Regions from separate parts of the Homo sapiens genome. Here region 2 is linked to region 1. Evidence: fine-mapped expression QTL. A gene starts in region 1. The other region holds a variant in brackets. All regions are shown on one strand. Distances are between the middles of the regions. Region 1 holds the start of CHRDL1 (chordin like 1). Region 2 overlaps CHRDL1 (chordin like 1).

Evidence for each region. PIP is the estimated chance that this variant, and not a neighbour inherited with it, causes the effect. A credible set is the group of variants that fine-mapping cannot tell apart.
Region 2: its variant is the best candidate, but not a certain one, in a credible set for the expression of CHRDL1 in sun-exposed skin (GTEx, PIP 0.56).

The regions. Positions count from the first base shown.
Region 1 is chrX:110,793,029-110,798,410 of GRCh38, forward strand. CHRDL1 (chordin like 1) reads right to left here and starts at 2,789. Exons shown (of 12, transcript NM_001143981.2): 1 at 2,716-2,789.
Region 2 is chrX:110,726,188-110,731,569 of GRCh38, forward strand. The region is part of intron 4 of CHRDL1 (chordin like 1); the gene reads right to left. Among named protein-coding and RNA genes, the nearest start is that of CHRDL1, 67 kb to the right of the region's middle. The variant G/C (reference allele first, on the strand shown) is at 2,717.

The DNA.
Region 1 (5,382 bases):
ACACAGAAAGTTTGCTGTAGCTCACATCTAGTCACGGATCATTTCCACAGATGTTAGAGTTTGCAAAATTCCTCCAATGGGTGATCTGAAAATATTGAAATGTTCTAAAAACACCAGATTCAATCTGAATGGGAAATGAACTCATTGATCTTTCCAGAAAGTCCAACCTAAATATTGCACATAAAGAACTTGAAGGAATGCAAAACGATCATTTTGGAGAGTTGAATATCTTTGGGCTCTGAAGTAGATGCTACAGCTCCTACTTAAATGCTATGAAGTTGCCTGGGTCATTCAAAATCCACTGTTTCAATTATGAATGCATAACCAAGGAAGAACTGATGATAGAGTAATCTGTGCTATCAAACAAGATTTGCAGCACCGTCTGCCTTCCTTCTTTACCTCCTCCCTGCTCCTTAAAGAACCAAATTCTCTCAGGACATGTTCCTACCCATCTAAAGACCTGAGTTCTGATGTCTTGGTCCCCTCTGTGAGTTTGTGGCCCACTTACAATCACTCAGAATGTTACTGTCCCTTGAGGGCTACCACGTTTATTCGAAACAAATCATTTTCATTAACAATTTAACACAGCTACCCACCTCAGTGAGGTTCTTCCTGAGCCTATTCTAATAAGTTTATTCCCCAAGCCTCCAAAAGAGAAAGATTTTTAACCACTGAAATCCAATTTATCACATTCATATATGGATTTCAACGGGTGTTTCTGAAACCATGGTTTTAGGGTCTCCCCATGCGAGAATCAACAGGGCTGCTTTTCTTGTATAATGGTTGGGCGATTCGGTGAACTGTAGCATTGCTTCATAACTCAAGTTGGCAAGAAAACAGCTCATAGATTTTTTTGCCTTTCTTAGGTCCCAACTAATATTATGAGCAAATAAAAAAGTTGGTAACTAGAGAGCAATTAATCTCCTTTGGCGTTCCTGTCATCTGTGTGGCCTCCCAGGCTGTGATGGAGAACATCAGAAAATGAATCGCTTTATAAATATTCACTTTTGATTTACAAGATCCTGAAGTCCTGCCTTTGTATTCTGTGCAGAAATATGAACCAAGAAGAGTTCCCTCCCCAGATCTCCTCACTGTTCAATTTCTCTTTATCTCTTCAGCTTTTTCTTTTAGGGAAGGGGGTGGTTCAAAACATGTGTTGGGACTGCAGCAGTAAACACTAGCAAGCATTGCTCAGCGAACTTAGCCGACTCTTATTCTTGCAAAGAGCCAAACTGTCCTTAATTTTTCAAATTATACTTTGACCCAGTTAACTGGAGTTATTTCTGCATTAACTCTCTGTCTGCTTCACACAGGCTGTTGTGCCATTGAACTTGCACTGGCTCTTTTACAGGTTACTTAGACATGTAGCCATTGACATGCTTCAGGGGATCCAGGACCCAACAAGAAAGCAACAACAACAACAAAAAAACAAAACCCTGCAACTAACACAGGTAGTGGAGGTGGGATGGGAGAGTTCCTGTGTTTTACAAGAGAAAGAGAAATGTATCAAGTACCAAAAGAAAGGTATTTATTAAGGTGCTTCCATGAAACAAGCATTCACATTGTTCATCTGCGTTAAGCAAAGGGACCAACTGCTCCTTGCCCAGCTGTGACTGCAAGGCAATCTGGGCCATCAAGTGTCAGGAGCCCACTTTCAGAACAGGTCTCCTGGGTAGAACAGAAGCAAAGAGACATCCCCACAGGAAGGCTAAGGGATGAACACATGTCAGCCAGTTCTTCACGCCCCACAGTGTCTCTTTAATCCTCCTGAGAGGCTTGACTGACCTTGTAATCTCACATTGACTATCATCTGTGGGACAGCCCCTAGGGTAGCAATTTTCTTTCCGACAAACAATAAGAAAGACACTGGAGTCCCAGGCCCTTGTCCATCAGCTGAAATCCTCTCCCCACTCTACCACCCAGCAAGAAAAGTTCAGTTAACTGGTGGTGTGTTGCCACTGAAAATGGCAGTTTTAACCCAGGGTATCTCTTGTTGGAGGAAATGCTTTCATTGCTGCTTATGACTGACAAACAATGCCTCGCATTTGGCTTGCAAAACACCTTTCTATCATTTCATTTCATTCCACACAACTCCACCTTCAAAATGGGCACTGGGGGGACCCAGAGAACTCAAATAACTTTAGTGGCAGGGCTGGGAGGGACTGGAAAGCAGGCTTTCCGGGCCCTATGTTCTGGCAATATACCACGTTGCTTCCAGAGCCTAGTGTCTCAAATTCTGACCCCCGTAGTCAGGGACAAAAAATGAGGCAGATGGCCAGAGGATAGGATAGGGAGCCTTTCGCCCATCTACCCTGCTACATTAACTTTACCATGTATTCATCAGCAAAATGAGAAAACAGGCTCAGGAATACAGGCAGTGATTAAGGGGACTGCAGAGTCCCTTGGGTAGCTCAGGGTGGAGTACCTAAGTGACCTCTCAAAGCGCCAGAGCATAAAGAAATGCAGGCCGAGTGGGGAGGGACGAGCTGTGAGTTCGAATTCAGAGACCCCCAACTTGCTTTGGTCAGAAGCCTTGGGCCCCACCTCCATCCAGGTTGCTAACTGCTGGAGCACAGAACAGGTTGGGGTGGCAGGGGAATTTGGGGCACCCTGGGGAAACTTCCAGGGACGGCTCCGGCCAAGAGAAGGCAACCCACCTGTGCAAAGGCTGGAAAAGGAGGTGAGGGAAGCGGGCGCCGGGCACTGCTCACTAACCTGGGCACTGGCCTTCTCCGTCTGCCACGCGTGCACGCGCTCCGAGCTCCCCGGGGCGCTCTCGTCCGAGGTCTGGGGCTGGCAGGTTGTGGCGAGAGCTAGAGTGCGCGCGAGGGGGGAGGGGGAACTCAAAAGTGGGTGGGAGGAAAAACATCACCGCCCTCACACCACGAGGGAGCAGCGGCTTGCTCGGCTCCCGGGGGCAGAGCCAAGGCGCGGGCGCGGCGGCCCGGGGCCACCTGCCCGCCCTCCCGCTCGCTCCCCACTTGGCCCGAGAAGCCGGCCGCTCGGCGCTGGCGGGAAGTCCGCAAGCACGCAGCCGCTGCAAGCACGCACACTTTCTCCACCCCGGCACAATGGCTTTATTTCTGCTCCCCCGGCCCGAAAGTTTAAAAATCGGGAGAAAGTGTGAGACTCAGCCGGCTACTTTCCCATCACACAGCGCCCCCACTGCAGCCCCCACTCCTTTGGCTAGGCGAGCGTTGGGGTCTTAAAGGGACCGCACAGCTCCTCCGGTCCCTCCTCCCCCTCTGCACTGGATGCACCTAGGAGCTCCCCACCACTCGCGCACGCCCTGAAGATACCGACTACCCTCTGACTCCCCTGCCTGGAAGCCCACACCCGCTCTCCTCCGGCACCAAGGCCTTTCCGAGGTGTGCACCTGGTCTGGTACTGAGCTGGTGCCCTGGACACAGAATGAACCCTCCTCGCAAATCACGCCCTAGCATGCTGCTTATCATTTCACGGCGTTTCCCATATCCACACTGTGGCTAACAGAGTGACAAAGCTTTGGTTTGGTGTCCTTAAAGGCGGGGTGGAGATGGGTGTGTGTAGGGTCAGGGATTAGAAATCCACTTTCTCTTACAAACTGGGCTCCCAAGCCTCATGGAAAGGGCCTGTTCTAACTGTTAAGTGTCTTGAAGAAAACTTGGTGCCACACACTATACCCACCATTTTTTTTTTAAATGAGTCCCTAAGCTTCTAAGTTGGGCCAAGAGCTCAACCTGGAAATCACAGTAGCACTGCTGATGCCTTGGTGGGCCTGCCTACTCCAAATTTGTGTTTATTCAACAAGTGATAGTTGCAAAGAATTGTCAGAAACTTCTAGGGTCCAGGAAAGTGCTGCCTCGACAGACAAAATTTTAAGCCCCTAAATTTGGAGAAGAACCGCAGAGCTTTTTTCTAGATGAACTAGATAAATATCTATATTCCTAACATCTGTATAGTACTTTATGGCTTACGGAGTGTTTTCACATACATCAACATTACTTTTTAAACCCTCAAAACCAACCGAACTACCTGAGGTCTCAAGTGTTAGAGTTGGTGGGGAACTTCTGAACCATTCAGCTTAACTTCATCATTTCACAGAAGAGGAAACTGAATTGGGGGAAGAGGATGATGTATCTAAGGTCACACAGCTAGTAAATGACAAATTTGAGATTCCAATCCAGATTCCCTGACTTTCAACCCACTACTCTCTGGTTGTTATCTCCAGTCTGTAGATGAGGAAATTGATGTTCAGAGAAACTGTGGCTTGTCAAAAAAACAAACAAACAAACAAACAAACCACTTATCAGGAACAGAAAACAAAGAAAAATTAAAACAAGAATAATTGTCCCTGAACGTTACCTCCTTTTGCTTTTTCAGAAGTGTTAATAGTATCCAGCTAGCCCCTGCATTGCTGGTGATGTTTATTTCACTGTTAACAAAGGAAAGGGGGCCCTTTCTGTAATGTTGCCTTCAGGGCCCAAAATGTCTAGCTCCGTCCTGCTGCCTGGGTAGCCATACACTGCCACATGCATTCAATTTGTGCTGTTGTATATCGGTTTGAACTTGCTGATTTGTTGCCTTATAACTGTTCTCATGCCGTTTAATGCAGTGATGTTTTGTCTTACTAGATTGTGAGTTCTTCAAGGGCAAGGACTGGTTGTTCAATTTCTCTTGTGCGTGCATTACCCAACTCCCATCATTACTTCCAACATGCTTACAGAGTATTCTGGAAAATGAGTTTCAAGGGATAGTCTGAGACAAACATAAATTCTAGCATTTAAAATAAATAGACTCACTGGGATTTAAAAGTTCATCTATTTGGCTACAACCACTCACTCCCTTGCTTGGTGTAGAATCCTAATTACTGCATAACAAACCATCCGAAAACCTAGTGGCTTAAAGCAAGCAATTATTCTCAATTGGTTCTATTGAGTTGATTCTATTGAACTTGCTTAAGATCTCTTATGCAGTTGCAGGCAACTGTATATGGGGCTGCTGGAATTCTCTGACAGGTTTTTCATTAGTGTAAATGTTAGTCATCCTTGTATTTTGTATTAGTTCCAATCTTGATTTCTGAATTGAGAACTCCCATTTGGGTGAGTCCTAATCTAGACATCCTACCAGGTCTTATAGAAACTTAAGTGATGATTACCTTCATGCTTTATTTTCTCTGTTTATTAAATAGGGATGAGAGCATAATCTCATACTCATTTTTTAAAAAGTTTTATTTTAAGATAATGGTAGATTTACATGCAGTTGTAAGAAATAATTCAGAAAGATCTCAAATACCCTTCACCTAGTTTTCCCCAATGATAACATCATTCATAAATATAGTACAATGTCACAACAGGACACTGACATTGGTACAATCCATTCATCTTACTCTGATTTCACCAG
Region 2 (5,382 bases), 67 kb before region 1:
CTGGGGTCCCAGCTGCTATGATCTGAATATTTGTGTGCCTCTGAAATTCATATGTTGAAATCGTAACCCCCAAGGTGATGGCTTTTAGGAGATGGGGCCTTTGGGAGGTGATTAAGTTATAAGGGCAACATCCTCATGAATGAGATTAGTGCTTTTAATAGAAGAGGCCTGTGGGAGCTTGTTCGCCCCTTCTACTATATAGGCTCACAGGGAGAAGGTATCATCACTGAACCAGAAGCCAAGCCCTCACCAGAGAACAAATCTGATGGTACCTTGATCTTGGATTTCCACCTTCCAGAACTGTGAGAAATAAATTTCTGTTGTTTATAAGCTACTCAGTTTGTGGTGTTTTGTTATACCAGTTCAAACAGACTAAGACACCAGCTTTGGCATGTCTTGGTTCTGTGATCTTAGGAAGGCTTGAGTATGCCTTCTACTTTACGTGGCTGTGAGGTTCAGCGATAATTAATTTTAAAAAGCCCAAAGGTATCTGGTACATAACATTCACAATAAATGGTAGATGATCTTGCTCTAGAAAGAGGTCACAGAGAGGAAAGCAGTAAAGTTGAAGAATATGAAGGAATTTTCCCAATTTCCATAGATGATAACTAACTGAAAGGCATTTGCTTTGCACTGATGTGTATGGTAGGTGCTATGGAGACATGAGTCAAAACACTATTTCTCTCTTGTTTTCTTATTCATTCAACAAGCACTTGTGGAGGTCTTTGACTATACCTGGCACTAATAGATCCTTGACTATACATTGACAATACCTGGCATTATGTTACCTTAAAGCTACAAAGATAAATAGGACATTCCCCTGACTTCAAGTAAAATCCTGCTTTCATTGGAGGGGAAGGCACAAAAAGGTGTTAAATGATAATGTATTTAAATAACACATAAAGGTTCATAATGGAAGAGAGGTCAAATAATCACAAATTGCCAATGTTAAGTGGGGAGGAGTATCAACTGCATCAATAAGGATTCAGGTTAGATACTAAAAAAGATTCCTTGCTGAAAGAGTTATTAGAAACTGGAACCACAGGCCAACTAGGCATGTAGGGAAATTATTTTCAAACTAGGTTCTGTGCTGCTTTAGGATTCTTCAGAGGTACTTGAGGGATGTGAAAAAAAAAATCCCTTCCCCATTTCTACTTCAACAGAATACCTCTTACTTTGTTAGTGAAATGTGTTTTTATTAGCTTTTTTAAATTTCATTTGAAGAAAGAGTTTGCTGCCATAAGACACTGTAAAACACTGGAATAGAATCTCTTCACATATTTGCTGTTTGGGGATTAAAATCCTATTTGTCCCTAATATATAAAGAGCTTCTATAAATTGACAAGAAACAGATTCATAACCCAATGGTAAAAATGGAAAAAGGATATAAATAGACAGTTGACAGAAATGGAACTACAAGTGGCCCTTAGACATGAAAAAATCAACCTCATTCATTAGAGAAATATAAATTAAAACTGCAATGAAATACCATTTTTCTTAGCAGATTTAGAAAAATCCAAAAGTTTGAATAAAACACTCTCTTGGTAAGTCTGTGAAGACTTGATTAAAACATGATGAAGGGCAATTTAGCAATATCTGTTCATTTAAAAATACATATATATTTGACCCAACAATCCTATTTTTAAGAATTCATTCTACAGATATACTTGCACATGTGTGAAACATATAAAAATTATTCATTGCAGCATTGTTTGTAATGGCTGAATATGGAAACAACTTCTATGTCCATTGATAGAAATCTGGTTAAATAAATGATGGCTCATTATTATAACAAAATATTATGTAGTTCTATAAAAGAATAAGTTCTCTGTGCACTAATACAGAAAGATATATTATTAAATGATGAAAACAAGGGGTAAAATGATGTGCACAATAGACTACCTTTTATGTAAATGAAAAAATATTTTTAAAATATATATATATATTCATATTTGCTTACATTTTCATAAAAATCTGGAAAGATATATAACCACTAAAAGTTATGGGGGGGAACTACATGTTGTAGGGAGAAGATAAGAATTGGGTGAGTGTGGGACGGGGTGAATAAGATATTCTATTGCATTCTTTTATATGTATACCTAGATATATAATCATATATACATGTACATATACATATGCATTCATATTCTTGAATGATATAAATGTATTCCTCATTAAATTTGAAGACTACGTTTGAAAAAACTTCTACTTGAAGGCCGTAGACTAGACTAGGTGAACATTTTGGGTCCATTCCAACCATAGAAAATCAATCCTACAAAGCTGGTCATCAGAAGCCCGGCTGTATTCCTACTAGTGGGAGAGATCCTAGCTATGACTTTGTGTTCCCAGTCTTATTCCAATAATGGGTTCTCTCCACCGACATCATTGAGCCCGTCCATCTGGGCAAAGTGGAGGTTGTTACATTGCTTTCTTAAACAATGTTAAAGTAATTGTGTAAATCTGAGCTGGCTTTTAGTCCTTGGCCCAAATGGAAGGAACATAGACAAATAAGGTTGCTAGTGGGAAATCACCCATGGCCTTCTACCAGAGCACTGCTGTAATGGAGGGAGGAGCAGCTGGGAGCTAGCTGCATCTCAGTCAGGCAAAGTAAGAGCATACATCCAGGATGCAACACATCTTGCAGGATGAATGTATCAAAAACAGTGGGCTGGGCACAGTGGCTCACACCTCTAATCCCAGCACTTTGGGAGGCGAC[G/C]GCAGTGGATCACCTGAGGTCAGGAGTCCAAGTCCAGCCTAGTCAACATGGTGAAACCCCGTTTCTACAAAAAATTAGCCAGGCGTGGTGGCGGGAGCCTGTTATCCCAGCTACTCTGGAGGCTGAGGCAGGAGAATCGCTTGAACCTGGGAGGTGGAAGTTGCAGTGAGCTGAGCTTGCGCCACTGCACTCCAGCCTGGGCAACAAGAGCAAATCTCTATCTCAAAACAAAAACAAAAACAAAGAAGAGTGGGTGTCTGCAGCCTCCCCCCACCTCCAAAAAGTAACAATGCTCATATTCTGAGGCTATGTGGATTCAGACGACATTTTCCTTGGGATGCTCCCTGAGATCAGAGGTACTGCTTCAAATGGGCCCATCAGTTGAATCAATGATGCCTACCTTTAGATTTCTTTTTTTTTTTCAGCACTTCAACTGCCATCACTTCTTTTTCCCCTGGGCCTCTTGATGTGATGACTTAACTAGATCTGCTTTCCTCGGGTAGAGTCCAACGATTTCTAGATTTTCCCCAAACTCTCCTCCCCCATAAGAACTTAACTCTCCTGTGGCCCATCACATTGAGGTCATGCTGGCAGGCCTTAATACTAATCCCGTTAAGTAATTCATACTGAAATGAAAATGGTAGATAATGTTTTAAAACAGGGTCCTTTTCTAGATAATTATATTGTAACATAGGCCTTTGATGTTTTATTCATAATGAGGCTGTAGAGCACCGGGTAAAGAGTGTGAAACTTTCTAGAACTTAAGACCTGAATGAGGGAACTTGCTAAAAATGCAGCTTCCAAGACCTGTCCTAGGGAGAGGAGAAGCCTTACTTCAGAGTGTCCCATTTGGATTCAAATTAAAGCTCCATTGCTAATTATTGCTTATTAGCTGAGCAAATTCTTAGCATCTCTGAGTCTCAGTTTCTCCATCTATAAAATTGGGATGATAATGGTACCTACCCCATAGGTTGTTGGGATGATCAAACAAGGTAAGACATAATCTGTTCAGCATAGTACCAGGAACATATTAATGCCCAATAAATGCAATTGTTGTTCTTTTACTACTAGCTATAAATGATAGGGTTTCTGGAGGGCAGAAAGCAGGCTGGTAGGGAAAGAGATGTGGGGCTACTTAACCCTTACAGTGGCCATCCTCTTACCACACTGGCAGACCCTGCCTCTGTATAAGGCTTATGCTGAACTCCAAAGTAGCAGTGACATTTACTTTTCAATCAGTATTATATACTGTAAATTTTAGAAATTCTCAACACCTGTAATGTAATGACAAGGTTTGTTTTTACCCCTGTGCAGTCTTTCACAGCCCTGTAGAACTTCTCAAAAACTGTCAGATCCCAAGTGGTAACTAGAGATTCACTTCTGAGCCATCACATCCACTAAGAATCCTTTTATGCCCCAGCTCCTGGGCAAACACTATCTGCCCCATTTTCCCATCTCAGTGGGAAGACCGTCAGGTGTGATTTAGCCAAGCAGTTGCTTTCTAGCCAGAGCCATTTACCAAGCACATAGACTCTACTTTGGACTTATTGAGCACCCCAGACAGGTGGATTTACGCTCAGAAGGGTCACAAATGTATTTGTGATTATGAGTAGTCCTAAAGGGCATGGAATAGAGAGAAAAAGTGAACTCCTTGGCCAACACTCCCATTGTATTTTATTTTATTATTATTATTTTTAGAGTTGGGGTCTCACTCTGTTGCCCAGGCTGGAGTGCAGTGGTGTGATCATGGCTCACTGCAGCCTCAAAGTCCTGGGATCAACTGATCTTCTTGCCTCAGCCTCCTGAGGTGCTAGGATTACAGGCTTGAACTGCCATGGCTCCCACCGTATTTTAACCATCATTTCCAGTGTCCTCTCCTGCAACATGTTTTCCAGAATTGCTAAACAAAAGTAATTGTTGATTGGTTTGACTTTCATCTTTGTTTTAGGTCACTACTGAAGGTGCTTTTCAGAAAGGATTTAATATTTTTTAGTTTAGGAAGCCTCTCCATTTCCCCCTTCATACATCCTTTGGCCTCCCACCCTTCGTTGCCCAGCTCTTGTCTTGCCTTTTCAAGAAAACTTCACTTGATTACTTCTGCACTTGATGGTCTCTTTGTGGGAAGGGAAAGCAATCAATAGAGCAGATTGCTTCTGCGATGGTAGAGCTTCCAAAGGTGGCAAGTTCACCATGTCCCTAAACTCTCTTCCTCTCCACCCTGCCAGAATGCCTGATATGCCCCCAGATTCAATCATTAGTTAGAGAAGGGCCCTATCTTTCCCAGAGGTTTAATATCTTCACAGTGATGAATACACAAGACTGGAACTATTCCCCAGTAAAGAGAAAGGCGCTATTGGGGGGAATCCTACAATGAGATACCATTTCACATCCACTAGGATGGCTATAATAAAAAAGACAATAATAACAAGGGTTAGCAAGTAGGTGGAGAAATTGGAACCCTTATACAGTGCTGGTGAGAATGTAAAAAAAAATAATAATAGTACAGCTGCTTTGGAAGATAATCTAGCAGTCTCTCAAAAAGTTGAGCATAGAGTTACCAATATAAGCCACCAATTCCACTCCCAGGTATATACACAAAAAAATTGAAAGAAGGAACTGAAACAGATATGTGTATATGAAAGTTTATAGCAGCATTATTCATAATA